Linked DNA regions of Homo sapiens. The protein of the gene in region 5 interacts with the protein of the main gene of each other region in a pairwise test. Each region holds a gene or a part of one and is shown on either strand. Other genes may lie near its edges. The genes, in order: SCAMP4, SACM1L, MFSD6, SLC38A7, SLC10A1, GDE1 and STX7.

Region 1 (3,500 bases), on a different chromosome or scaffold from region 5:
GCTGAGGCGTGGACCAGGCAGTGCATGTCGAGGAGTAGCACCCACAGCTGCGCGGCTGCGAAATGATCCAGAGACACATCCCTGTCTGCGGGAGGAGCCGTCCATACCAGCGGGGATGTGTAGTCCAGGCTGGCAGTTCAGGATCACCCGGCTGGAGTCATTTTAAGATCATCTGCGGCTTAGCCCCAGCACCATCTGAGGCAGTACTGTCTGCTAGAAATAACTGTGAGCACACAGGTAGTAAGGTTTTTAGGATTTTATTATTATTTATTTATTTGAAAAAAGGAACAGGGTCTCTCTATCTTGCCCACGTTGGTCTCAAACTCCTGTGCTTAAGTGATCCTCTCGCCTTGGTCTCCTGAGTAGCTGGGACTACATGTGCACACCACCGTGCCCAACTAATTTATACTTTTAAGCAATGTGGGCTGGGCACGGTGGCTCACACCTGTAATCCCAGCACTTTGGGAGGCTGAGGCAGGTGGATCACCTGAGGTCAGGAGTTCCAAGACCAGCCTGGCCAACATGGTGGAACCCCGTCTCTACTGAAAATACAAAAATTAGCCGGGCGTGGTGGCATGTGCCTGTATTCCCAGCTACTAGGGGGGCTGAGGCAGGAGAATCGCTTGAACCTGGGAAGTGGAGGTTGCAGTGAGCTGAGATCATGCCACTGCACTCCAGCCTGGGCAACAGAGTGAGACTCTGTCTGAAAAAAAAAAAAATGTGGGCTGGGCATGGTGGCTTACGCCTGTAATCCAACCTCAGGCCTGCGGTGCGAGTCTGTGGGGGCAGATGCAGGTGGGGGAAGGCTGGCCAGCTGAGACTGTGGTTTGGGGGTGTTCAGGTGGGGTGGATGCCAGAGATGTGGGAGCCAGAGGCGCTGTCCCCCAGGGCCCTGTGAGCAGTCCCTGCAGGCTGGCTGTCCCCACGCCTGCCTCTCTGCTGTGCTGTCTGCCCGCCTAGGGCAGGCTCCCTTCTAATGGGCGGATCCCGAGAGCTGGGGGCCCCACCAGCCCTTCCTCTCCAGTGGAGTGGCCCTACTGCCTCATGTCCACCTGTGCCAGCAGCAGGGATGGTAATGGCTCTACTATCTCCTGTCCTCACCTGTGCCAGCAGCAGGGATGGTAACGGCTTTACTGCCTCCCGTCCTCACCTGTGCCAGTGGCTGGGATGTCTTCACCTGTGCCAGCAGCAGGGATGTCCTCACCTGTGCCAGCGGCAGGGATGGTAACAGTGCTGGTGATGTCAGGCCGGGAGGTTCTCACCCGAGAGCCGCCTTGGCACACTGCCCGGCAGTCAGGGATGTTAGCAGGAGCCCCGGGAGTGATCCCAGCTCTTCCCGCAGCCCCACTCCAGCCAGGGCCTCCTCTGTGACTGAGTAAGCAGGGACACCCCAGTGGCTGCCTGCTCCACCCGACAGCCAGGGCCCACCACAGCTGCAGGAATGTGGTCAAGGGATGGGAAGTCGGGCCCACCAGGGGAGGGGCTGCGCTCCGGGGCTTACGTTTCGTGGCTTGTCTTCTGAGGTCTCTCTTTTCCTAGCCCTTGGCCGACTAGGGGGCGAGTGTTTACAGAAACCACTGGAGGTGGGTGTTCCGTGTCAGTGCCAGGCTGTGTGCTGTTCTGGGAGGGGGCCCCGTGTCCCCCACACTTGGCATGCTTGCTTTCTGTCACTGCATAGCAGACTCCGTGCATCTGTGGGCTTAATACAACACCCGCCAGCTCCCGGTTCTGTGGGTCGGGGCCTGAATGTGACATGGCTGGCTCCTCTCTGCGGGGTCTCACCGGGCTGGAACCCAGGTGTCAGCCAGGGCTGTGTTGTCATCTGGAGGCTCAACGGGGGTGGCATCTGCTTGCAACTCACGCAGGCGTTGGCGGAATTCAGCAGCTTGCGGCCGGGGGACCAAGGGTCCTGCTCAGTTCCTGGCCACATGGCCCTTCTGTCTGGAAGCCAGGCGCCGCCTGTCCCCGCTTCTGCTTCCAGGCTCTGGCTTCTGGAGATGCAGAGATCACATCAGTGGTTGCCTGGGTTGCTGTGTGTGTTGTAGGGTGGTGAGACAAGTTTTCTCTTAGGGGTGATGGAATGTTCTGGAATTTTATAGTGGTGATGGTTGCACAACTCCAAGTGTCCTAAGAGCCACTGAATAGGACACTTGATAGTTTTTGGTTTTTGAGGTGTCTTTTTTTTTTTTTTTTTTTTGAGACAGAGTCTCGCTCTGTCACCAGGCTGGAGTGCAGTGGCACGATCTCGGCTCACTGCAACCTCTGCCTCCCAGGTTCAAGCAATTCTCTTGCCTCAGCTTCCTGAGTAGCTGGGATTACAGGTGCGTGGCACCATGCCCAGCTAATTTTTGTATTTTTAGTAGAGATGGGGTTTCACCATGTTGGTCAGGCTGGTCTCGATCTCGTGGCCTCATGATCTGCCCGCCTCAGCCTCCCAAAGTGCTGGGATTACAGGCTTAAGCCACCACGCCTGGCTTTTTTGTTGTTTTTTGACAGTCTCGCGCTGTTACCAGGCTGGAGTGCAGTGGCGCGATCTCGGCTCAATGTAACCTGCGCCTCCCAGGTTCAACCTTCTGGGTTCTCCTGCAAGCCTCAGCCTCCCTAGTAGCTGGGACTACAGGTGCGTGCCACCAGGCCTGGCCAATTCTTTGTATTTTTAGTAGAGACGGGGTTTCACCGTGTTAGCCAGGATGGTCTTGATCTCCTGACCTTGTGATCCGCCTGCCTCGGCCTCCCAAAGTGCTAGGATTACAGGCGTGAGCCACCGTGCCCGGGTTTTCATTTTTTTTTTGAGATGGCATCTTGCTCTGTCAGCCAGGCTGGGGTACAGTGGCACGATTGTAGCTCACTGCAGCCTTGAATTTCCGGCCTCAAGTGCTCCTCCTGTTTCAGCTTCTCGAGTAGCTGAAACCACCGGTGTGTGCCACCACGCCCAGCTAATTTTTTGATATTTAGTAGAAATGGGGTGTTGTTATGTTGCCTAGGCTGGTCTTAAACTCCTGGGCTCAAGTGATCCCCCCACCTCGGCCTCCCATAGTGCTGGGATTACAGGCGTGAGCCGCTGGTACCTAGCCATGAATTGTGCTTTTGAAAATGACCTGTCTTGGCTGGGCGCAGTGACTCACACCTGTAATCCCACCACCAGGTTGAAGCGGGTGGATCACGTGAGGTTAGGAGTTCGAGACCAGCCTGAACGACGTGGTGAAATCCCATCTCTACTAAAAATACACAAAAATTAGTCGGGCGTGGTGGCGCATGCCTGTAATCCCAGTTACTCTGGAGGCTGAGGCATGAGAATAGCTTGAACCCGGGAGGCGGAGGTTGCAGTGAGCTGAGATCATGCCACTGTACTCCAGCCTGGGCGACAGCGAGACTCCGTCTCAGAAGTAAAAAAATAAAATAAAAAAAAAAGAAAATGATCTGTCTTCTGGTAGGTGAATTATATCTTCGTTTTTAAAAACCAATGGCTGTTTAAACTCTGTGCACACCAGGGGTTAGCA
Region 2 (3,500 bases), on a different chromosome or scaffold from region 5:
GAGGGAGATTCCATCTCAAAAAAAAAAGAAAAAGAAAAAAAATATTTTTAAGTATTTAAAAAAAATTTTTTTTAATTTAGATACAGGATATCGCTCTGTCACCCAGGCTGGAGTGCAGTGGTGTGATCATAGTTCACTGCAACCTTTAACCCTTGAGCTCAAGTGATCCTCCCACTTTAGCCTTCTGACTACAGGTAGGCACCACCATGCCTGGCTACGTTTTTGTTCTTTTAGAGGCAGGGACTCGTTATGTTGTCCAGGCTGGTCTCGAACTTCTGAGCTCAAGTAATCCTTCCACCTCAGCCTCCCAAGTAGCTGGGATTACAGGCACGCACCACCACGCCCAGCTAAAAGTATTTTTAATGCAAAATATTCAATCCTTGCCTCAGAGATTCTGATTCAGTTGATCTCAAGGCCAGGAATCTTTTTTCACAAGCAACCCAGAGGATTCTAAAGATAGTATATGAATCATAAAGCCCTGACATCTAGGGATATAGTTGGAATAATTATGTTAGAGGAAACCCTCATCTGGCTTTGGGAAACATGATTGATTTGCACAGCAACCTTTTTAATACTCTTAACTTTACTTTTTCACATCTTTGGGGTGAGATGATCTCTAATCTTCAGCCATTTTTTGGATGGAGGGCTGTCTTGCCTCAGCCATTTAGACTTCTTTTTGGTCTAGGATAATCACATATGCCTGACCACACATTCCTGTCTGACCTTTTAATTTACAGTTTTTAATAATGTCACTGAAATGAGACCCATGTTATAAGAGTTAAGTCCTTAGTAAATCTGACCTACTTTGGTATGAGAGTGTTTATACAAATATGTTTTAGTTATTTTCTAGTGGACTCTGCTGGCCAGGTGGTGGCAAACCAGGAAGGCGTGTTCCGAAGCAATTGCATGGATTGTCTAGATAGAACCAATGTGATCCAGAGTTTGTTAGCTCGTCGTTCACTTCAGGCCCAACTTCAGGTGCGAATGCTTTTTTTTTTTTTAATTGAAAAACAACACAGCAAAAAATTAAACATCTTTAAAACCCAGTAACAAAAAATATTCACATTGCCCACACCCTAACCCAGCTCTTTTTATTTTTGTGTCTTGCCCATGGATGTCACATTTTCCATAACTAGGGTCAGTCTGTGTATGCACAGTTTTCACTTTTGCCATTTTCCCTTAGCATTTATGTAATCACAGTTTCTGGTGGTTGTATTGTTGTGCCGTAATTTACTAAGCCATTCAGATTGCTACATTTTTGGTTTATAAATAACACCGTAGAGAATATATCTGTATATGTTATTATTAACTTGAATTATTTCCTTCATGTTAATTCCTAGAAGTGGAATTACTGGGTTAAAGAGAATAAATATATTATTTTCCAAGAGCGTCATACCAGTTTACACTGACACCAATAATGAATCAGTAAATCCATTTCATTGAACTCTTCCCAGCATTTGATATTTTAATTTTTTTTTTGTTTTTCCTTGAGAAAGTGTCTGGCTCTGTTGCCCAGGCTGGAGTGCAGTGGTGCAGTCTCGGCTTGCTGCAACCTCTGCCTCCTGGGCTCAAGCCATCCTACTAACTCAGCCTCCCACAAAGCTGGGGCTACAGGCATGTGCCACCACACCTGGCTAATTTTTGTATTTTTTTTTGTAGAGACAGGATTTCACCATGTTGCCCAGGTTGGTCTCAAACCCCTGGGCTCAAGCAGTCTACCTGCCTCAGCTCCCAAAGTGCTGGGATTACAGGCTTGAGCCACTGTGTCTAGCCTCTTTTTTTTCTATTTCGTTAATACAAAAGTAGCACCTCAAGATTGTTTCTATTTATCTCTCTCTTATTACTAGCAAGGAATATTGACTCCAAAGTAAAAAGTTTCTGACACAGCTTTGCTTTACCACTAGACTATGCTGTTGAGAAAAATGGTTTTTTTCTTCTGTGTATATTTGGAATGAAAAAGATGTAGAGCCCCAATTTTTAAATCACATTGGCATTTGTTGTGAGGGGCAGACAAAATGCATACCACATGGTTTCCTGTTCAGGTAATTAGTAAGCATTCAGCTTTATTTCTGACAATTGTATGATACCGAGAAAGAAATTATGGAGGTAAAATACCCCCTTCAGAATGAATTGTTCTTGAATCTTAAAGTCACACCTGCCAGAGGAGTGCTGTCCCTGTTGGAGTAGTCTGTAGTTTGTATTGTGCTATGTCCTCGTCTGTTGGAAGGTCTTCTAAGTGTAGTTTTTAATAGAAACAATATTAGGAATGGTTTGGTTCCATGGCTGATTAACCAAAACTTACTTGACTAGGCTCTGCAATCCATATTTTACAATTTTACATGCTATATATAGTATTATGAAACCTAACCAACCTGCAGAGAGTGGGGGCAGGAGCCTCTCCAGCAGCTTTGCCTACTAGTGTAGGGGCTGTCTACTTGTGCCTCTCCAAGTCTGCCAGTGAAGGCAGAGTTCTTACCCAGCTAAAGGTCACCAAGGTGGCTCCTGTGCTGTGTCTGAGGGTGGGAATGACTCCTTCTGAGGTGGAGATGAGGTGTCATCTGAGGTAAGCAATGAAGATGGTGGTTCTCAGAAGTGATGGTCTGAGACAAGGCAGGGACTTGTCATCTGTGGTTGGTGGTCTCCAAAGGGGAGTCTATAGAGGGGATTCAGGGGGCCCAGCAACCCTGGGATATTCTATGTCTGTGTGTGTGCACTTTTGGGGAGGTAGATTAGGTGGCACTCATCAGATTCTTAAAGGTCCCTGGGACAGAGGGTAAGGCTGGGGTGACTCAGGGGTGAAGAAGTTGAGGGATGATGCATGTGAGGGGGTCTCAAGGGGTAGAGGCAGTAGAAGACTGGGGGTAAGAGGGAGGGAGGAAGTAGCGGCTGGAATCCTATAGCAGCTTTCACTCTCTCTTCTGACCCTCTCCCTGAGTATAGTCCTGCTGCTATCCCTCAAGGGAGTGCGGGGGCTGCAAGGCAAAGGTGCCCTCAGGAGAGGCTTTGCAGTCTGCCCTGGGCAGGAGAGGGCTGCTGTGAGCTGGGGCCCCCTATAGACAACAGACATTTCTGGCCTGCATCCAGCAACCAGGCACCATGAGATAAAATTTGGGGACTGCTTTTTCTTCCTAAACCATGTCTGCTAAAATCTATTACACATAAATCTGGGTGTGGTTTTTTATTCCAGAGACTAGGAGTTTTGCATGTGGGACAAAAGCTTGAAGAACAAGATGAATTTGAGAAGATTTACAAAAATGGTAGGTCATTTCTTTAATATAGACAAAGTTGGTCAGATTTTGAAATAAATTAATATTCTGGATTTAGAACTTTGTTTGTCATCTTAATAATTATCAGCTGTTTTTACTTTTTTCTACAGCCTGGGCTGACAACGCAAATGCTTGTGCCAAGCAATATGCGGGAACTGGTGCCTTGAAGACTGACTTTACCAGGCAAGCCATGCTTTTAAAATAGCATTCCACATCAGTAGTTCACAGTCCTGG
Region 3 (3,500 bases), on a different chromosome or scaffold from region 5:
ACACAAATGGAAACATATCCCATGCTCATGGATGGGTAGAATCAATATTGTGAAAATGACCATACTGCTAAAAGCAATCTACAAATTCAATGCAATTCCCATCAAATACCACCATCATTCTTCACAGAACTAGAAAAAACAATCCTAAATTTCATATGGAGCCAAAAAAGAGCCTGCATAGCCAAAGTGAGACTAAGCAAAAAGAACAAATCTGGAGGCATCACACTACCTGATTTCAAACTATACTATAAGGCCATAGTCACCAAAACAGCATGGTACTGGTATAAAAACTGGCCCATGGACCAATGAAACAGAATAGAAAACCCATAAATAAAGCCAAATACAGCCAACTGATATTTGACAAAGCAAACAGAAACATAAAGGGGGAAAGGATACTCTATTCAACAAATGGTGCTGGGATAATTGGCAAGCCACATGTAGGAGAATGAAACTGGATCCTCATTTCTCACCGTATAAAAAAATCAACTCAAGATGGATCAAGGACTTAAATCTAAGACCTGAAACTTAAAATTCTAGAAGATAACATCAGAAAAACCCTTCTAGACATTGGCTTAGGCAGAGATTTCGTGACCAAGAACCCAAAAGCAAATGCAACAAAAACAAAGATAAATAGATGGGACTTAATTAAACTAAAGAGCTTTTGCACAGCAAAAGGAACAGTCAGCAGAGTAAACAGACAACCCACAGAGTGGGAGAAAATCTTCAGTCTATATATCCGACAAAGGACTAATATCCAGAATCTATGACGAACTCAAACAAATTAGCAAGAAAAAAAAAAACACCAAAGAGTGGACTAAGGACATGCATAAACAATTCTCAAGCAAAGATACACAAATGGCCAACAAACATGAAACAATGGTCAACATCACTAGTGATCAGGGAAATGCAAATCAAAACCACAATGTGATACCACCTTACTCCCACAAGAATGGCCATTATCAAATAATCAAAAAATAATTGATGTTGGTGTGGATGTAGTGAAAAGGAAACACTTCTACACTGCTGGTAGGAATGTAAGCTGTACAAACACTATGGAAAACAGTGTGGAGATTTCTTAAGAACTAAAAGTAGAACTACCATTTGATCCAGCAATCCCACTACTGGGTATCTACCCAGAGGAAAAGAAGTCATTATATGAAAAAGATACTTGTACATGCATGTTTATAGCATCACAATTGCAAAAATGTGGAACCAGCCCAAATGCCCATCAATCAATGAGTGGATAAAGAAACTGTAGTGTGTGTATGTATGTATATGTGTGTATATATATGTATATGTGTATATGTGTGTGTATGTGTGTGTGTATATACACACACACACATATACATACATACACAATGGAATACTACTCAGCCATAAAAAGGAATGAATTAATGGCATTCACAGCAACCTGGATGGAACTGGAGACCATATTCTAAGTGAAGCAACTCAAGAATGGAAAACCAAACATCGTATATTCTCACTCATAAGTGGGAGCTAGGCTATGAGGATGCAAAGGCATAAGAATGATATGATGGACTTTGGGGACTCAGGGGAAAGGGTGGGAAAGGGGTGAGGGATACAAGACTACAAATTGGGTTCATTGTATACTGCTTGGGTGATGGTTGCACCAAAATCTCACAAATCACCATTAGAGAACTTACGTAACCAAATACCACCTGTTCCCCAAAAACCTGTGGGAATAAAACATTTTTTAAAAAATAACTATCACGTGGCTTTTCCTGTTTTGACGTCTTTTTAATCATAATCCTGTAAATGGGCCTAAGGCAACACTCATTATAACCTATGCCCCACTGATGTTCTAAGTTAAATGAAAAATATATTTCTTAAATATATATGCTAATGTCTATTAAGGCCTATAAAGAGACCCAAAGATAAACATCATGTTCATTGATTCAGTACTTACACCAAGTAATGAAGTCATTGGTAACCAGCAATTTATTAATATTATCAAGCACTCTGGAATGGGTATATGGGATTCTTGGTTTATTTATTTATTTTTACCTTTGTTCAAATATGTAGAAAATGCTGAAAAAATAGTTTAAACATTCTTTTCTCTCCAGACAAGACAATGTTGGCAGAAAGAATTCCTGTTCCCTCCAGTCCCGTTCCTATAGCAACCATCGACTTGGTACAGCAACAGACAGAAGATGTCATGCCACGCATTGAGCCCAGACTTCCACCCAAGAAAACTAAGCACCAGGAAGAACAGGAAGATGTGAACAAACCAGCCTGGGGAGTCAGCTCTTCTCCCTGGGTGACCTTTGTCTATGCACTCTACCAAATTAAAGAGATGATGCAACTCACAAGAGACAACCGTGCTTCTGAGATACAGCCTTTACAGGTACAGTTCCTTTGCTGGGCTAGCAATATTACCTGTCACTCAAGATACCTTAACTGGGCTCAGTTTTAATTACTCACTTTTCATTCAACAAGATTTATTGAAAGTCTGGTGGGGGAAATAGACATGCAAACAATTTCAGTACTCTGTGAGCACTGAGTTAAAGAGGGTGTATACAAGGTCCCATAGAGAGAATATTCTGCCTTATGGAGTTCAGGAAAACTTCAGAGGTTATGATTCTTTCACTTCTTGAAAGAAATAAAATAAATTAATCCATTCTTTCATTGTATATTTGTTTTAAATTTCAGTATTGATGGTTGTCTCTGTAATTCCAAAATTCTAGTGGGGGCATTATATTATAGGACCACAATAAATATTTGTTGAATTAATTAATCTGAGCCACTGTATGGGTCTGATAGGACACCTAACTCAGTGGAATTATGGTTATGCAGGTGGCCTCACCTGAAAAATAAGTCTAAAAGTGTGATTTTTCTTGTCCCCAGAGGAGTGATCTTTCCTGAGTAAAGTTAAAGCATGTTGATAAAAGTGTGGATAATTGTACAGGTGTATCCCGACTTTGGAAAATGAGTGTAACTTCTATAAACAATTTAGCCAAAGAAATAGGCTCAGTTCCCCCATCTCATGATAATCACTCCCTTTTATTTGATAAGTCACGTCAGCTTTGTCTGGAGTAGCTTCAGAGGACACATAAAAATAAAGGGGAAAGATTTAAAAATAAGGGTCATTTGAGTAATTCCCCTTTCAGAAAATTTGTTGAACTGTTAATTAATCTCACTTTGTAAGCTAACATAAAATCTTTGTGAAATTTTAACCAAATCTGGTTCTTTACTGATAACCATATGCATGCTAGTCCATGCATGATCCTATTTATTAATTTATCAAGATAATAAACTCACATCATTACTCTGCTCAGTCAAGAACCAGATATTGTGGTGGGAGATGCATATGGAGGATTTTAATACCTTAAAGCAAGAAGACTAAACAGGAGAAAGGATGATTTTAATATCTGCTGCTTGAGTAGCAATATTTTCATTACTTTGTGTACTCATCCTCATTTTCACAGAAGCCACATAAAATTTTTGATGTGGCGCTTTTTTTCTGGTATGTTAGGATTAAT
Region 4 (3,500 bases), on a different chromosome or scaffold from region 5:
CTGAATACACAGCCAGGAACAAGAGAGGCAAACAGCCAAATCCCTATTCTCCTGGGGCTCATGTCCTGGCTGGGGAGACAGAAAATAAGCCTGTAAAAATTAATTACTATTATTATTGTTATTATTTTTATTTGTATTATTGTTTACTTAAAGACCAGTGTGATAGTACAGTTAAAAAAAAATTAGAAAGCGATGAGGCCAGTCACAGTGGCTCACACCTATAATCTCAGCTATGGGAGGCCAAGGTGGGAGGTTCTCTGGAGCCCAGGAGTTCAAGACAGGCTGGGCAACATGGTGAAACTCCATCTCTACAAAAAATTTAAAAATTAGCCAGGTTATGGTAACATGCACCTGTGGACCCAGCTACTTGGGAGGCTGAGGTGGGAGGATCGCTTGAGCCTATGAGATCAAGGCTGTAGAGACCCATGATCATGCCATTACACTCCAAACTGGGCAACAGAGTGAGACCCTGTCTCTAAAAAAGAGAGAAATGAGTGTTAGGGGACAGGCCCAGTGGATCATGCCTGTAATCCCAACACTTTGAAAAGCTGAGATGGGAGAACCGCTTGAGGCCAGGAGTTCAAGACCAGCCTCGGCAACATAGTGAGACTCATCTCTACAAAAATTAAAGAATTAGCTGGGCGTCCGCCAGGCATGGTGGCTCACGCCTGTAATCCCAGGACTTTGAGAGGCCAAGGTGGGTGAATCACTTGAGGCCAGGAGTTCGAGACCAGCCTGGCCAACATGGCAAAACCCTGTCTCTATCAAAATTACAAAAATTAGCCGGGCGTGGTGGTGGTGCCTGTAATCCCAGCTACTCGGGAGGCTAAGGCATGAGAATCACTTGAACCTGGGAGGCCGAGGTTGCAGTGAGCCAAGATCGCGCCGCTGCACTCCAGCCTGGGGGAGAAAGTGAGACTCTGTCTTCAAAAAAAAAAAATTAGCCAGGCATGGTGGCATGTGCCTGTAGTCCCAGTGACTTGGGAGGCCAAGTCAGGAGGAACTTGAGTCTAAGAATTCAAGACTACAGTGGAACTATGATTGTACCACTTCACTCCAGCCTGAGTGACAGAGCAAGATCCTGTCTTTAAAAAAAAAAAAAAAAACGGCCAGGCACTGGGGCTCACGCCTGTGATCCCAGCACTTTGGGAGGCCCAGGCAGGCAGATCACATGAGGTCAGGAGTTCGAGACCAGCCCAACCAACATGGCGAAACCCCATCTTACTAAAAATAAAAAAATTAGGGCTGGGCGTGGTGGCTCACGCCTGTAATCCCAGCACTTCCCGAGGCAGGCGGATGACGAGGTCAGGAGTTCGAGACCAGCCTGGCCAACATAGTGAAACCTCATTTCTACTAAAAATACAAAAATTAGTCAGGCTTGGTGGCGGGCGCCTGTAATCCCAGCTACTCGGGAGTCTGTGGCAGGAGAATCACTTAAAACCAGAAGGCAGAGGTGGCAGTAAGCTGAAATCGCACCACTGCATTCCAGCCTGGGTGAAAGAGCAAAACTCCATCTCAAAAAAAAAAAAAAATTAGCCAGGTGTGGCGGCAGGTGACTGTAATCCCAGCTGCTTAGGAGGCTGAGGCATGAGAACCCAGGAGACCAAGATCATGCCATTGTACTCCAGCCTGGGCATGACAGAGCGCGACTCCATCTCAAAAAAAAAAAAAAAAAAAAAAAAAAAAATTAGCCGGGCATGGTGTAATCCCAGCTACTCAGGAGGCTGAGGCAGGAGAATCACTTGAACCTGGGAAGTGGAGGCTGCACTGAGCCGAGATCGTGCCACCGCGTGCCAGCCTGGGCAACAAGAGTGAAACTCCATCTCAAAAAAATAAAAAAGAAGAAGGCTGGGTGTAGTGGCTCACACTCTGGGAGGGTGAGGTAGGAGGATTACTTGAGCCCAGGAGTTCAAGACCAGACTGGGAAACGTAGCAAGACCCCATCTCTACAAGAAAATTAGCTGGGTGTGGTGGCATCTGCCTGTAGTCCTAGCTACCTGGGAGGCTCAGGTGGGAGAATCGCTTGAGCCGAGGAGGTCAAGGCTGCAGTGAGCCATGATCACACTACTGCGCTCTAGTCTGGGTAACAGGGCAAGACTCTGTCTCAAAAAAGAAAAGAAAAATAAGACAGCGTGATGTGAGAGAGTGCCTGGGGTGGGGGTCATTGTAGATGGACTGGCAGGAAGCATTCTCTGAGGAAGGACATCTAAACTGAGACCCAAATGATAAGGAGATGGCATCTGAAGGTCTGCCAGACAGAACAGTCAGTGCCAAGGCACTGAGGTGGGAATGTGCTGGGCAAGTTCAGGCTCAGAAAGCTGGGGGCTGGAGGGCTTCCAGCGATGGGGGATCTGAGAAGTCAGGGAGGGAGGCATCTGATCGGAGCCCCATCTCCCACTCTGAGCCTCCGTCTAAGTGTCCAGAGCTGCTGCTGCAGCCTCCAGGCTGATGTTGCTCCTAGGAGGAGTGGACAGTCCACCCCACTACCCTCCCAGGGTTGCCCTGACCCAGTTGTCCCTGCCCACAGGCATCTGTGGCTTCCTGACCTTTGGAGCTGCTGTGGATCCTGACGTGCTCCTGTCCTATCCCTCGGAGGACATGGCCGTGGCCGTTGCCCGAGCCTTCATCATCCTGAGCGTGCTCACCTCCTACCCTATCCTGCACTTCTGTGGGCGGTGAGCCCCCTTCCACTCCCCAGGGCCCCTCCTAGCCCCTGTGAGCGCTTCCAACATGGTCCTTTGGCCTTGTGTGGACCCCATCCTGTAGAAGGAGAAACTGAAGCCTGTAGAAAAGAGTCGGTGCCTAGGATGGGTCCCTACATATCCCAGGCCAGGTGTCAGAAGCGCCCTTTGTCCTGGGGTCACCAGAACATTCCGTGAGTCCTGTAAGAATCTCTATCCATGGCATGGCACGGTGGCTCACGTCTCTAAACCCAGCACTTTGGGAGGCTGAGGCAGAAGGATCGCTTGAGCCTGGGAGTTCAAGACCACCTGGGCAACCTAGTGAGACCCCATCTCTACACAAAATAAAATAAATAGCCAGGTGTGGTGGGATGCACCTGTGGTCCCAGCTACTCAGCCACTTGGGAGGCTGAGGCAGAAGGATGGCTGGAGCCCAGGAGTTCAAGGCTGCAGTGAGCCAAGATTGCACCACTGCACTCCAGCCTGGGTGAGAGAGCCAGACCCTGTCTCAAAAAAACAAAAAACAAAAGAATCTCTATCCAGATCCTTTCCTGAGCTTTCACATGGACACCCTCCCCTTTGGATGCCCCAGACAGTTCCTTTTAAGGAAAAAACAATATCAGTTTCCATGTGATGTAAAGCAAAGTGCTAAGCTCTCGACATTCACCGTCTCTAGTCCCTGTGGTAAACAGAGTGCTGGTGGCCCATTTTACAGAAGAGGAAACTGAGGGTCAGGAATGGGGCTTTCCCCGCAGTCTACCCAGTTAGGGGTCTGGCTCCTGTGAGCTAGAGGTGGGGAGCTGCTAGCAGCAGGGGCAC
Region 5 (3,500 bases):
GATACATATTAGAGCTGGAAGGACATATTATTCAGGCTCTGAGTGTCATAATTTATTTTAAATAATATCAAGAGGAACCAGAAAGTAAAGAACATGAGAACACCAGAGTTGGGGACTGGAATACTATCCAAGATGCAAAGCAAATCTGACCAGGTTATCTTGTCACTTACTCAACATGGGTATCTATTACTGCCTTCTCTACTACCCCACCATTATGGCCCTTCAATTATTCTGTTTCTTACTGCTTCACTATTTCTTTTACAGTCCTTTTAATCATGGTATCTGTTTATTGATTTTTCTAGTAGGGTTTTTGACTTCTGCCTGAGCATCACTCCCATGCCACCCATCCCCAAAGACCAAGTGTCCTGTCACTGTGTCTCACACTCAGACTCCCCACGAGGTAAAATGTGCTGATATAGCTAATTGTTATTGTCTCCGTTGGACAAAGTCACTACAAGAAGCCATTCCCTAGGCTCTAAACCAGACATTTAGTAACTGTGGGTCAGGTGCCATTCCATGGTCCAATGGGCTAATGACCAGAGTAATGGAATCACACAGTTGGCTTTCTACAAAATGGGCTTGGCATGGGGGAGGTGCTCAATGCGAAAAGGGTTCCATTACAGAGAAGGAGATCAGAATGGCTCCTTCCACAATGAAGCACACAGGGATTGAAGCAGTTGAACCACCCTAAGTTCAAATGCTGCCTTGGCCACTTACTACCTTGTGCGACTTTGAGCAGGACACAACTCTTCTAGTCCCCAGCTTCCTTGTCAGCGAAAAGAAGATAGTATGCTTACTGCCTAATGTTATGGGGAAAAGGAACTGAAGCCACATATGTCAAGCACTTAGCACAGTGGCACTTAGCAGGCACTCAACAAAATAGTCTGTATTTATGGGCTCTCTCTCTCTCCCCTCTTCCCATGTCTCCCACCAGCATTGTGATGACCACCTGCTCCACCTTCTGTGCCCTTGGCATGATGCCTCTCCTCCTGTACATCTACTCCAGGGGGATCTATGATGGGGACCTGAAGGACAAGGTGCCCTATAAAGGCATCGTGATATCACTGGTCCTGGTTCTCATTCCTTGCACCATAGGGATCGTCCTCAAATCCAAACGGCCACAATACATGCGCTATGTCATCAAGGTAAGAACCTGGGAGGCTTGACAAATTAGGGCAAAAGAGTAAAAACACCATATACAACTATAAGATATAATCATTATATTAATAATAAACATACATATGCTCCTACTAGATGCTAAGTTTTATGCTATGCACTCTAAGGATTCACTGTCACCAGAGTTTGATATTTGCAGAAAGTGAAGTAACACATGAGGCTGGCGTGGTGGCTCACGCTTATAATCCCAACACTTTGGGAAGTTGAGGCGGGTGGATCACTTGAGGTCAGAAGTTTGAGACCAGCCTGACCAACATGACGAAACCCCGTCTCCATTAAAAATACAAAAAAAAAAAAAAAATTAGCCGGGCATGGTAGCGAGTGCCTGCAATCCCAGCTACTCAGGAGGCTGAGGCAGCAGAATCGCTTGAACCAGGGAGGGCAGGGGTTGCAGTGAGCCGAGATCGCGCCACTGCACTCCCGCCTGGGCCACAGAGCAAGACTCCATCTCTAAAACGAAAAAAAAAAAAAAAAGAAAAGAAAGAAAATGAAGTAACACACGAGAGAAACAAGATCCAATTCCAGTGTACACGCAAGTATTTGCAGAAGGCAAGGAGATGGGAACAGTGAGGGCTGGAGTGGTCAAAGAGCCTTATTAAAAAGGAAGGGCTTGAGGCATTTAGGTAAACCTGGGGAGAAGCCTGAATAGAGTTCAGCAGGCACTAAGGGCAAATTTGGCTGATGTGGCAAGAAGCTAGAGGAGACAGGTAGTGTACCCATTCCCAGCATTTCAAGAGAGGGATGGGGTGGGAAGTGGAGTGAATTAAGGCCACAAAGGTTTTGAGAAGCACTGTGGTCACAGACAGGGCATCATGCCACTGCTTTGTGTGCAGAACTCCTAGAGTGCAGCTATGGTCTCTCCACCAATATTTTCAACCTTGGAGTTTGGTCCCTGCCAGCCTCCCCCTTGGCTCACTATTCATCCCCCAGGGCCAGGAGGTCATCCTGGTCCTCAGGAAGGACTTGACCTCCTGACCTCCTGTACCATCTCTGCCCCTGGATCAATGCCTCTGGCCTGGTCTGCAAGGCGTGCTGCTGAGAACCCCAAAGTTTGGCAGCAGCTTTGGGCCTGGAACAAAGAAGTCAAGAGTCCAGTTTTCAGGGGGGTTTTATTTTCACACTACCATTGTCTCAAGAGTAGTTTTTGCCCTTGTCCTGTCCCAGTGCCATGGCCACAGCTCCCCTTCCCGCCTGCTGGAGGACATGGAGGAATCATCCCTCCTCCTTTCTGTGGCCAGTCACCCCACCTCAGCCCTGGATTGCAATCATTCTCTCTACCCTTGTACTCAAGAGACCTCCTTTTATTGATTATGCCCCTGGCCCAGCAGCCTCCCCTCTCTCTCATTTCTAAAATATCTCTGTATTGGTTCTTCACAATCAGCTTTGATACGAACTCACATATCTTCTATCTTCAAAAAACAAAACAAAAAGTGTCTCTCACTGGGATTTTTTGTGGAATCCACCTCCCATTCCACCTAATATCTCCCTTTGCTCTCCTTCCTAGCCAGGTTTTAGGAGTAGTCCCCCTCACTCCTCTCTCTCTCTGTCAATCGCTTCCTCTCAAACACCTTCCATTTCCCCCATGCCACCGCCAGAGCTCTCTCATGAGTGACCAGGCCCTCAGCAATTCGTTTCCATTATTTGAATCCCTCTCTTCTCTCCTTGGTCTCCCATCCACCCAGCATCTTGATGACCACCTGCTCCACTTTCTTTGCCAAATCCAATGGACATTTCTCAATCCTTCCTTGACCTTCTAGCAGCATTGGACATAATTGACCACTGCCTCCTCAAAAGCCTTCTCTGTCAGCTTTAGTGACTCTAAGCTCTGCTGCTTTCCTCCTACCTCTCATGACCTTCAGACTCCCTTATGAGTTCCTCTGGTCAAAGGCACTTCTCTGCATTCAGACCAAGCTTTCTGCCTTTCTCACCAGACCTCTCCCAGCACAGGATCTGGTCCCTCTCAGGTCTGCAATTACCATCTGCAAACCGAGACTTCCAGAACAGCATCATCAGATGTCAACTCTATCCTCACTCCAGAATCCATTTATTATCTACCAGGTCTTTCTATCTGAATATACCTCAGACATTTAAAACTCAATATATGTTAAAGTCATCTCCTCCCCATGTGGTTATCTCAGTCGGTGGCACTGTGTGTGTGCCCAGTTGCCCCAACCAGAAACTGGAAGTCATTCTCAATGTTCCCTTCTCCCTCACCACTCACACCCATCTAATCAATGACTGTCGATTCCACCTTCTGTTGCTGGAATCCATTCATTCCTCTCTATCCTTACCTCTCACTAGACAACTCAAATGGCCTTCTCATC
Region 6 (3,500 bases), on a different chromosome or scaffold from region 5:
TTGCATAAGCAGAGCAATACAGTATCTGATGACACTCAAGAACAATTCTAGCAACTTGGACTCATAATTCTCAAGTGTTACCAATATTCTTTCCTGCCTACAGTATGACTTCCTTCGGCAGACTAATGTTTTTCAGATCCTAGGAAAACAGGTCTGGATCATCTTTTAGGAAAAAGTATAACTTAACTGTTGGGTCAAATACTTAATTTTCCAAGAGAATCGATCATTGTCTGGATAATTGATATTACATGAATAACCAGTGAGCACACCCTTTTCAGTACTGCAAAGATGACAAGCAGAGAGGGATTTAAATAACCACATTCCAAAGTACAGTATATTACTCAGCATACCAATTCCAAGGGTGTTTACCGCTGTAAGTGGGGAAGAGGATGTAGGTTCTGTGATCATGTAAGTTTGAGAAAAGCTAAGTTACAAGTAAGAATCAGCTGATGTGGACTGTTTATCCACAACAGAAGTATTCAGAATACACTGTTTGATCTTACTTGAACCCTGTTTTTGCAGAACATCTTGTAAGATTAGCTCTAGTGTATATACTTTGGAAGCTACGTTTACACTCTACCAGGAAGGAATTAAATTAGACACTGAAAGAACTTTTGCTCTTACAGGGTTGAAAGACATTGGGGGCAGCTAAAAACAGCATGATTTGGACTAAAACTTGGGATAGATTCTAGTTTTGGCTTCTTTATGAACTAGTTATTTGCCCTTGAGTAAATAATTTAACTTTTCTGGGATTATATCTAAAGGCAAGATTGATCTAGATCTGTAGTATCCTATATGGTAGCCACACATGGCTATTTCAGTTTAAATTTACATTTAAATTAAAAATTCACTTCCTCGTGTCACTAGCCACATATCAAGTGCTCAATAGCCACAAGTACCTACCATATTACACAGTGCAGATATAAAATATTTCCATCATTGCAGAAAGTTCTACTGCAAAGTGCTATTCTAGATGATTTCTAGGATACTCTCTATTCCTACAATTCTGTGATTCCTCAGAAGTTTGTTATGAGGATCAGAAGAATTAAATGGGTTAAGTTAAAATGTGATATTATAATGTTACTTGAAGCTTTTAATGAATGTATAATTTGCTTCTTGGTACACCTGAAGGCAAGAAGATTGCCAAGCAATGACTTTCAGCCTCATGATTCTATGACTAGACAGTATTATCTTGACAATAATTCTGAAGCCAAATTTAGCCTCAGTGGGAAAGATTAAAAACATAATGCCAAATTTCTGTTGTTCCTGGCACTTGCTCATTACTTACAAGACCTACGTACAGTTCAAAACAAAACAAGACAACTCTCCTGGGGCAGATGTAATTAGAAGGCACCAGTGTCTGTCATTTCCAATAAAAGCTAAAAGATCTGTTTAAGTGACAATAAACTACTTACCTGAGTCTGTGGTTTGCTGCAGGATTCAGCTTCCTAATTTGTTCAAATGTCAAATCACACAATCGCCCAGTCCCATCAGTCGTCCTATCTACTGTGTTATCGTGCATTAAGACAGGAATCCCGTCAGAAGTAAACTCAATGTCCAACTCCACGCCTGTTGCTCCATTCTTAGCTGCCTTAACAAAAACATCAAGAATATTACTGTCAAATGGCCACAAACATTATTTTGCATCTAACCACCCAAAAGACCAGCAGGGCTCCTAAGACAGCTGTCCTTTTTGATTCATTTTCCTTCCACTTCCCCCACCAAACAGCAATCCTGATCTGTTTCTGTTTTCTGTGTATATAACCTTACTTCAATTCCTAACTGATGGATTCCTTAAAAACTTTAATTTTCCCACTCTTCTTACTTTCACAGTGGAAGACTAGGAGACTTCAGGAACTTATGTTTTCTCTGGATGTTTAACTATATGGGTCATCAATGGCTTATGAATACTTAGACAATTCCACTGTTTACCTACACTATTTGTTGGTACAGCAGTTCTGATGATCACCCTACGGTTGTTGATTAGTCAGATATTTCACTACTTTGGCATAAATGAGTCAGGTTTTTGTTGGTTTAATTCCACCCTCTACCACAAAGACACCACGCCTGCTTCTAGGACATATCACATTTTGTTTATGTAAGCAGCACTGGCTGTTGGCCCATAAGTTGTTAAGCTTGATGAGGTAGATTAGAATTTATCTAAAAAGAGAATTTGAACCTTAAATTACACGAGCCATGCTCCTCTGGAGACACACTATTTAATGTTTGCTTCCTTGGCTTCCTCATCACAATAAAGATGTGAAATGCTCATTACGATGAAGATTTCTTTCTTTTTTTTTTTTTTTGGAGACAGGATCTGGCTCTGTTGTTCAGGCTAGAGTGCAGTGGCATGATCTCGGCTCACTAAAACCTCCGCCTCCTGGGTTCAAGCCATCCTCCCACCTCAGTCTCCCAAGTAGCCGGGACTACTGGCACGTGCCACCATGCCCAGCTAATTTTTGTATTTTTTGTAGAGATGGGGTTTCACCATGTTGTCCAGGCTGGTCTCGAACTCCTGAGATCAAGCAATCCTCCTGCCTCAGTCTCCCAAAGTGCTGGGATTACAGGTGTGAGCCACTGTGCCCAGCTATGATCAAGATTTTTAATTTTTTAAAAAATATTTTAAGTCATGGTCTATTGCAAACATCTACAGTAAAAAAGATTTAACATATGTGAATATTTTGACCTAATTTCCTCAGTCTCTTTCTGTACTAAAACAAAAACAAAAACAAAAACTATTATTTATTGAGCCTTTTCTACTTGCCAGGCACTCTTCTAAGTGCTTTAAATGTATTAACTTATTTGATCCTCACAACCCTGAAGCAGGTACTATTAATATTCTCATTTAACAGATAAGAAAACTGAGACAAAGAAAGAGTAGGAAACTTGCCCAGGGCTGCACAAGCTAGGATGCAGTAGAAGTTGCACTCTTATCCGCTTCAGTTTTACTATCAACACTACAGATACAGCTGAAATTCTCCCTTTCATTCTCCTCCTTTCCTCTCCAGAGGTAATTACCATCTTAAAGTTGGTGTATATCATTCTCATGTCACTCCCTTACCGGTTTTTATTTAAGTACCCATAAACAACACAGAGCACTGTGCTAGTGAATAGTTAAGATTTCAATAAATGTTAGCCATTGTTATTTATTATGTCCTTTTAAACACATCTTTAAAGGTAATATAGTCAAATTTATCAATAACGTCCTTTATGGGTGGAGATTTTTCTGCTTTATTTAAATCTTTTCCTTTTCCCATGTGATACAGATGTACGACTATTTTGGAAAAACACATCACATTTTCCCTCTGCTCTCACAACAATCAACCCCGACGTCTGTGACCAAAAATGTGGGGGTTTTTCCCCACCAATAAGTAGTGGACACCAGCTGGGTATCCTCCAACTCAATTTTGACACTATCTACCTGGAGATAGTGTCAGATCATAGGTTGAGGGCTTGGTCCCCAAGACTGCACCCCACCCTCCTCCAGACACAAATAGCAA
Region 7 (3,500 bases), on a different chromosome or scaffold from region 5:
CAATTTTAAAATTTCTGGCCCTTTACCGAAAATGTTGGTTGACCCCTGGAGTATAAACCTATACTATAGAAGAGAGTATCAATTTTTTTTTTTTTGAGAGGATCAATTTAAACAAAAGTTGGTCTCTTTAAATAAATAAAGTACACATAACTTGGTGAAACCGATTTGGAAAAAAACAGAAGACATAAAAAATTTAGGAATGAAAGTACAGATAAATAACCAAACATAGATTTTAAAATAATAAGACACTATAAACAACTTTATGCCAATATATCACAAAACAGAAAATGAATAATTTATATGAAAAATGCAAATTACCAAAATCAACTACGAAGTAGATGATTTCTGCTTCCTGCCATATGGTTGACTAGGTATACTCAAGGATCCTCCTGCTAAAATACAGTTAGTTCTTGGATAAAATACAACACACATAATATTAGTTCATTTCCTGGCTCATTAGAAAGAAAGATAATCACTAAAGGCTATTACCAATGAGAGTGGGCTAAAATTAAAGTAGTTGAGAAACAGGAAAACTGTGCCTCTGAGACTTAAGCCATGGACTCCAGGCAAAGTAAAGAAAGTGAACCTAAGATTCCTTCATAAAACCAGGAATGCTTTAAAGCATTAAAGTAGTCCTAAGTCAGTGGACTCTGGTGGTTACTCTAAGAAGTGGATGAAAATCCCCTCCGAAGGAAAGCCTCCCTAATTAATGCTTCTAGATTAATCAAACATGCAAGGAAACACACCATTTGCATTGAGAAACAGTAGATTTAGATATTCAAGGAATTCAGGTATTGCAATTAGCAGAAGTAGAATAACAGTTATATGTTTAAATAATGTATGAATTAAAACGAACATGAAATGAGAGATGTGTTAAAAGGCAGATATTAAAAAGAACCAAAGACAACTTAGGTATGAAATTTAATTATTGAAATATATAACATAATGAATGGTTTAAGAGCAGATTCACCACAACTAAAGGAATTGTTGACTATCAAGTTTTAACTGAGGAAACAACATATTGCAGCAAAAACAGGTAAAGGGATAGAAAATAAGAATTAGAGATTATGAGACCTGAAGGATAGAATGGGAAGGTTTAATATGTGCTGATTGGAGTCTAAGAAGTAAAAAATAGAAAAAAATTGAGGTAATTGCTGACAAATTTCCAGAGCTAAGAAAAGCCTGGGACCTGGTATGGTGGCTTATGCCTGTAATCACAGCATTTTGGGAGGCCAAAGCAGAAGGATCACTTGAAGCCAGGAGTTTGAGATCAACCTGGGAAATGAAGCAAGAGCCCCCACTCCATCTCTACAAAAAAAATTAAGAATTAGCCAGATGTGGTGACATGAACCAGTAGTCCCAGCTACTTGGGAGGCTCAAGTGGGAGGATCACTTGAGCCCAAGAGTTTAAGACCAGCCTGAGCAACATGGTGAAACTCCATCTGTACAAAAAATACAAAAATTAGCCAGGCATGGTGGCACACACCTGTGGTCCCAGCTACTCAAGAGGCTGAGGAGGGAGGATCACACGAGCCCAGGAGTTCAAGGCTGCAGTGAGCTATGATGGTGCCACTGTACCCTGTCTAAAAAAAAAAAAAGTGGATCCACATATACAAGAAGCAAAATGTATATCAACCAGGAAAAGGAAGCCAATGTATATTCATTATACTCAAACTTCAGAACAATAAAGGCAAAGATATCTTAAAAGCAGCCAGAATAACTTATCCACTTTTAAAGGAATAACGAATTGACAGACCTTTTTTTTTTTTTTTTTTTTTTGAGACAGAGTCTTGCTCTGTCACCCATGATGGAGTGCAGTGGTGTGATTTCTGCTCACTGCAACCTCCATTTCCCGGGTTCAATTGATTCTCCTGCCTCAGCCTCCCGAGTAGCTGGGAGTACAGGTGTGCGCCACCACAACCTGGCTAATTTTTTTGTATTTTTAGTAAAGACGTGATTTTGCCATGTTGGCCAGGCTGTTCTCGAACTCCTGACTTCAGGTGATCTACCTGCCTTGGCCTCCCAAAATGCTGGGATTAGAGGCATGAGCCACTGCACCTGGCCAACAGTAGACTTTTCAGTGCCAAAACTGGAAGGCAAAAGACAGTGGAATAACATCATTAAGGTACTGAGAGAATAACTCAATAGAATGAGTGCCCAGTGAAATTATCTTTCAAAATCAAGGGTATATTAAAAACACTTTTTTCTCAAAATGAGAATTTACAAACAAGGGACTTTCACTTAAGAATAAAGATGAATTTTAGAGTACAGCAAAATGACTAGGAGGAAAGTCTGAGATGCAAGAAGGTATGGTGAGCTAAAAAATCAGTAATCATGGGAAATGTAAATAAATACTGTCTATATTAAGAAGTATTTACTCTGTGGAGTAAAAAAGAGCGTAATTAAAATACTAGCAACATTTTACATAACTCAGGAAATGTATATGTGGGGAAAGTGTCCGGGAGCACTTAGAAGTTAGTGTGAGTGCTCCAAGATCCTGATACTCTTTAGGATGGAAGTTAAGATAATGAATGACTTTAGATGTTGTTAATCTAAGTACTTAACAGAAAATTTTCAGATAACCTTTAAAGAATAGCAATACAATATAACTTTCAAACCAGTAGAGAGGAAACATTCTGAAATAAGGGAAAAACACTTTAGAAATCCCAACTTTGATAGACCACAAAAATGCAAGAAGGAAGAAAAAGCATAGAAAAAGCAAAGAAATGGCATAGTATATAATAAATGGTTACAATAAATATAAATTGCCTATCTCACCAGATTAATAAAAAAAAAAGTCTACCTTGTTCAATATATACAGTTTACAAAAGACAGTACAAGGACAGAGAAAGACAAAAAGTAGAATTAGGGAAAATAAAACAAGCAAATATACCTGGTTAGGATAGCTGTATCAGTATTAGCCTTACAAATATTAAAGTGAAAAGCATTAATAAGGATAAGGAGACTCTCAAAAATAATAAAAATTTCAACTGAAGTAGGTATAACAGTTCTAAACAAAGTTATTAAAGTAAAAATGTAGAGGGCAAAACGGAAAAAAAAACTATTATGTTGTATTTGAAGTCACTCAATTTTTAGCTCGAGCAGCAAAAAAGTAAATAGAACAACATGGTAACCAAAGTTGATTCAATTAATACATAAAGGATCATGTTCCCCCAATTTAGAGCATGTGCATATTTCTTAAGCATGTATAAAAGATTTAGAAGGAAAATGATAAAGGAATGTTTTGGGGACCTCTGATAGGGAAAGATTTCTTAGAAAATCTGCAAAAGATATTAACCATAATCTACATAAAGTCAACTGTTTTATTTCAAGCCTCTCTGGAAATAGTTTTGTTGACTGATAAGAAACGCTCTATGTCAGTCAGCTAATCAATGTCTAGTGAGTCTAACTCTTTCCACTACACAGTAAGTTCCATCTTAGGGTGTTTTACTTAAAAGCCTGGTGTCAAATGTTACACGCACAAAAACTTATTAGTATCT

The links.
Region 1: the proteins of SLC10A1 (region 5) and SCAMP4 interact in binary tests that used the Homo sapiens proteins (3 or more experiments, as listed by UniProt).
Region 2: the proteins of SLC10A1 (region 5) and SACM1L interact in binary tests that used the Homo sapiens proteins (3 or more experiments, as listed by UniProt).
Region 3: the proteins of SLC10A1 (region 5) and MFSD6 interact in binary tests that used the Homo sapiens proteins (3 or more experiments, as listed by UniProt).
Region 4: the proteins of SLC10A1 (region 5) and SLC38A7 interact in binary tests that used the Homo sapiens proteins (3 or more experiments, as listed by UniProt).
Region 6: the proteins of SLC10A1 (region 5) and GDE1 interact in binary tests that used the Homo sapiens proteins (3 or more experiments, as listed by UniProt).
Region 7: the proteins of SLC10A1 (region 5) and STX7 interact in binary tests that used the Homo sapiens proteins (3 or more experiments, as listed by UniProt).

What each region holds. Positions count from the first base shown.
Region 1 is NC_000019.10:1,908,399-1,911,898, forward strand, and holds part of SCAMP4 (secretory carrier-associated membrane protein 4), read left to right. Parts: intron 1-3,491; exon of another isoform or gene 3,492-3,500. UniProt on the Homo sapiens protein: Probably involved in membrane protein trafficking.
Region 2 is NC_000003.12:45,734,396-45,737,895, forward strand, and holds part of SACM1L (phosphatidylinositol-3-phosphatase SAC1), read left to right. Parts: intron 1-839; coding exon 840-978; intron 979-3,187; coding exon 3,188-3,257; intron 3,258-3,376; coding exon 3,377-3,449; intron 3,450-3,500.
Region 3 is NC_000002.12:190,495,355-190,498,854, forward strand, and holds part of MFSD6 (major facilitator superfamily domain-containing protein 6), read left to right. Parts: intron 1-2,084; coding exon 2,085-2,365; intron 2,366-3,500.
Region 4 is NC_000016.10:58,671,271-58,674,770, reverse strand, and holds part of SLC38A7 (sodium-coupled neutral amino acid transporter 7), read left to right. Parts: intron 1-2,527; coding exon 2,528-2,675; intron 2,676-3,500. UniProt on the Homo sapiens protein: Symporter that selectively cotransports sodium ions and amino acids, such as L-glutamine and L-asparagine from the lysosome into the cytoplasm and may participates in mTORC1 activation. The transport activity requires an acidic lysosomal lumen.
Region 5 is NC_000014.9:69,783,742-69,787,241, reverse strand, and holds part of SLC10A1 (hepatic sodium/bile acid cotransporter), read left to right. Parts: intron 1-934; coding exon 935-1,145; intron 1,146-3,500. UniProt on the Homo sapiens protein: As a major transporter of conjugated bile salts from plasma into the hepatocyte, it plays a key role in the enterohepatic circulation of bile salts necessary for the solubilization and absorption of dietary fat and fat-soluble vitamins.
Region 6 is NC_000016.10:19,515,599-19,519,098, forward strand, and holds part of GDE1 (glycerophosphodiester phosphodiesterase 1), read right to left. Parts: intron 1,592-3,500; coding exon 1,416-1,591; intron 1-1,415. UniProt on the Homo sapiens protein: Hydrolyzes the phosphodiester bond of glycerophosphodiesters such as glycerophosphoinositol (GroPIns) and glycerophosphoethanolamine (GroPEth), to yield a glycerol phosphate and an alcohol.
Region 7 is NC_000006.12:132,447,117-132,450,616, reverse strand, and holds part of STX7 (syntaxin-7), read left to right. Parts: 3' UTR 1-3,500. UniProt on the Homo sapiens protein: May be involved in protein trafficking from the plasma membrane to the early endosome (EE) as well as in homotypic fusion of endocytic organelles. Mediates the endocytic trafficking from early endosomes to late endosomes and lysosomes.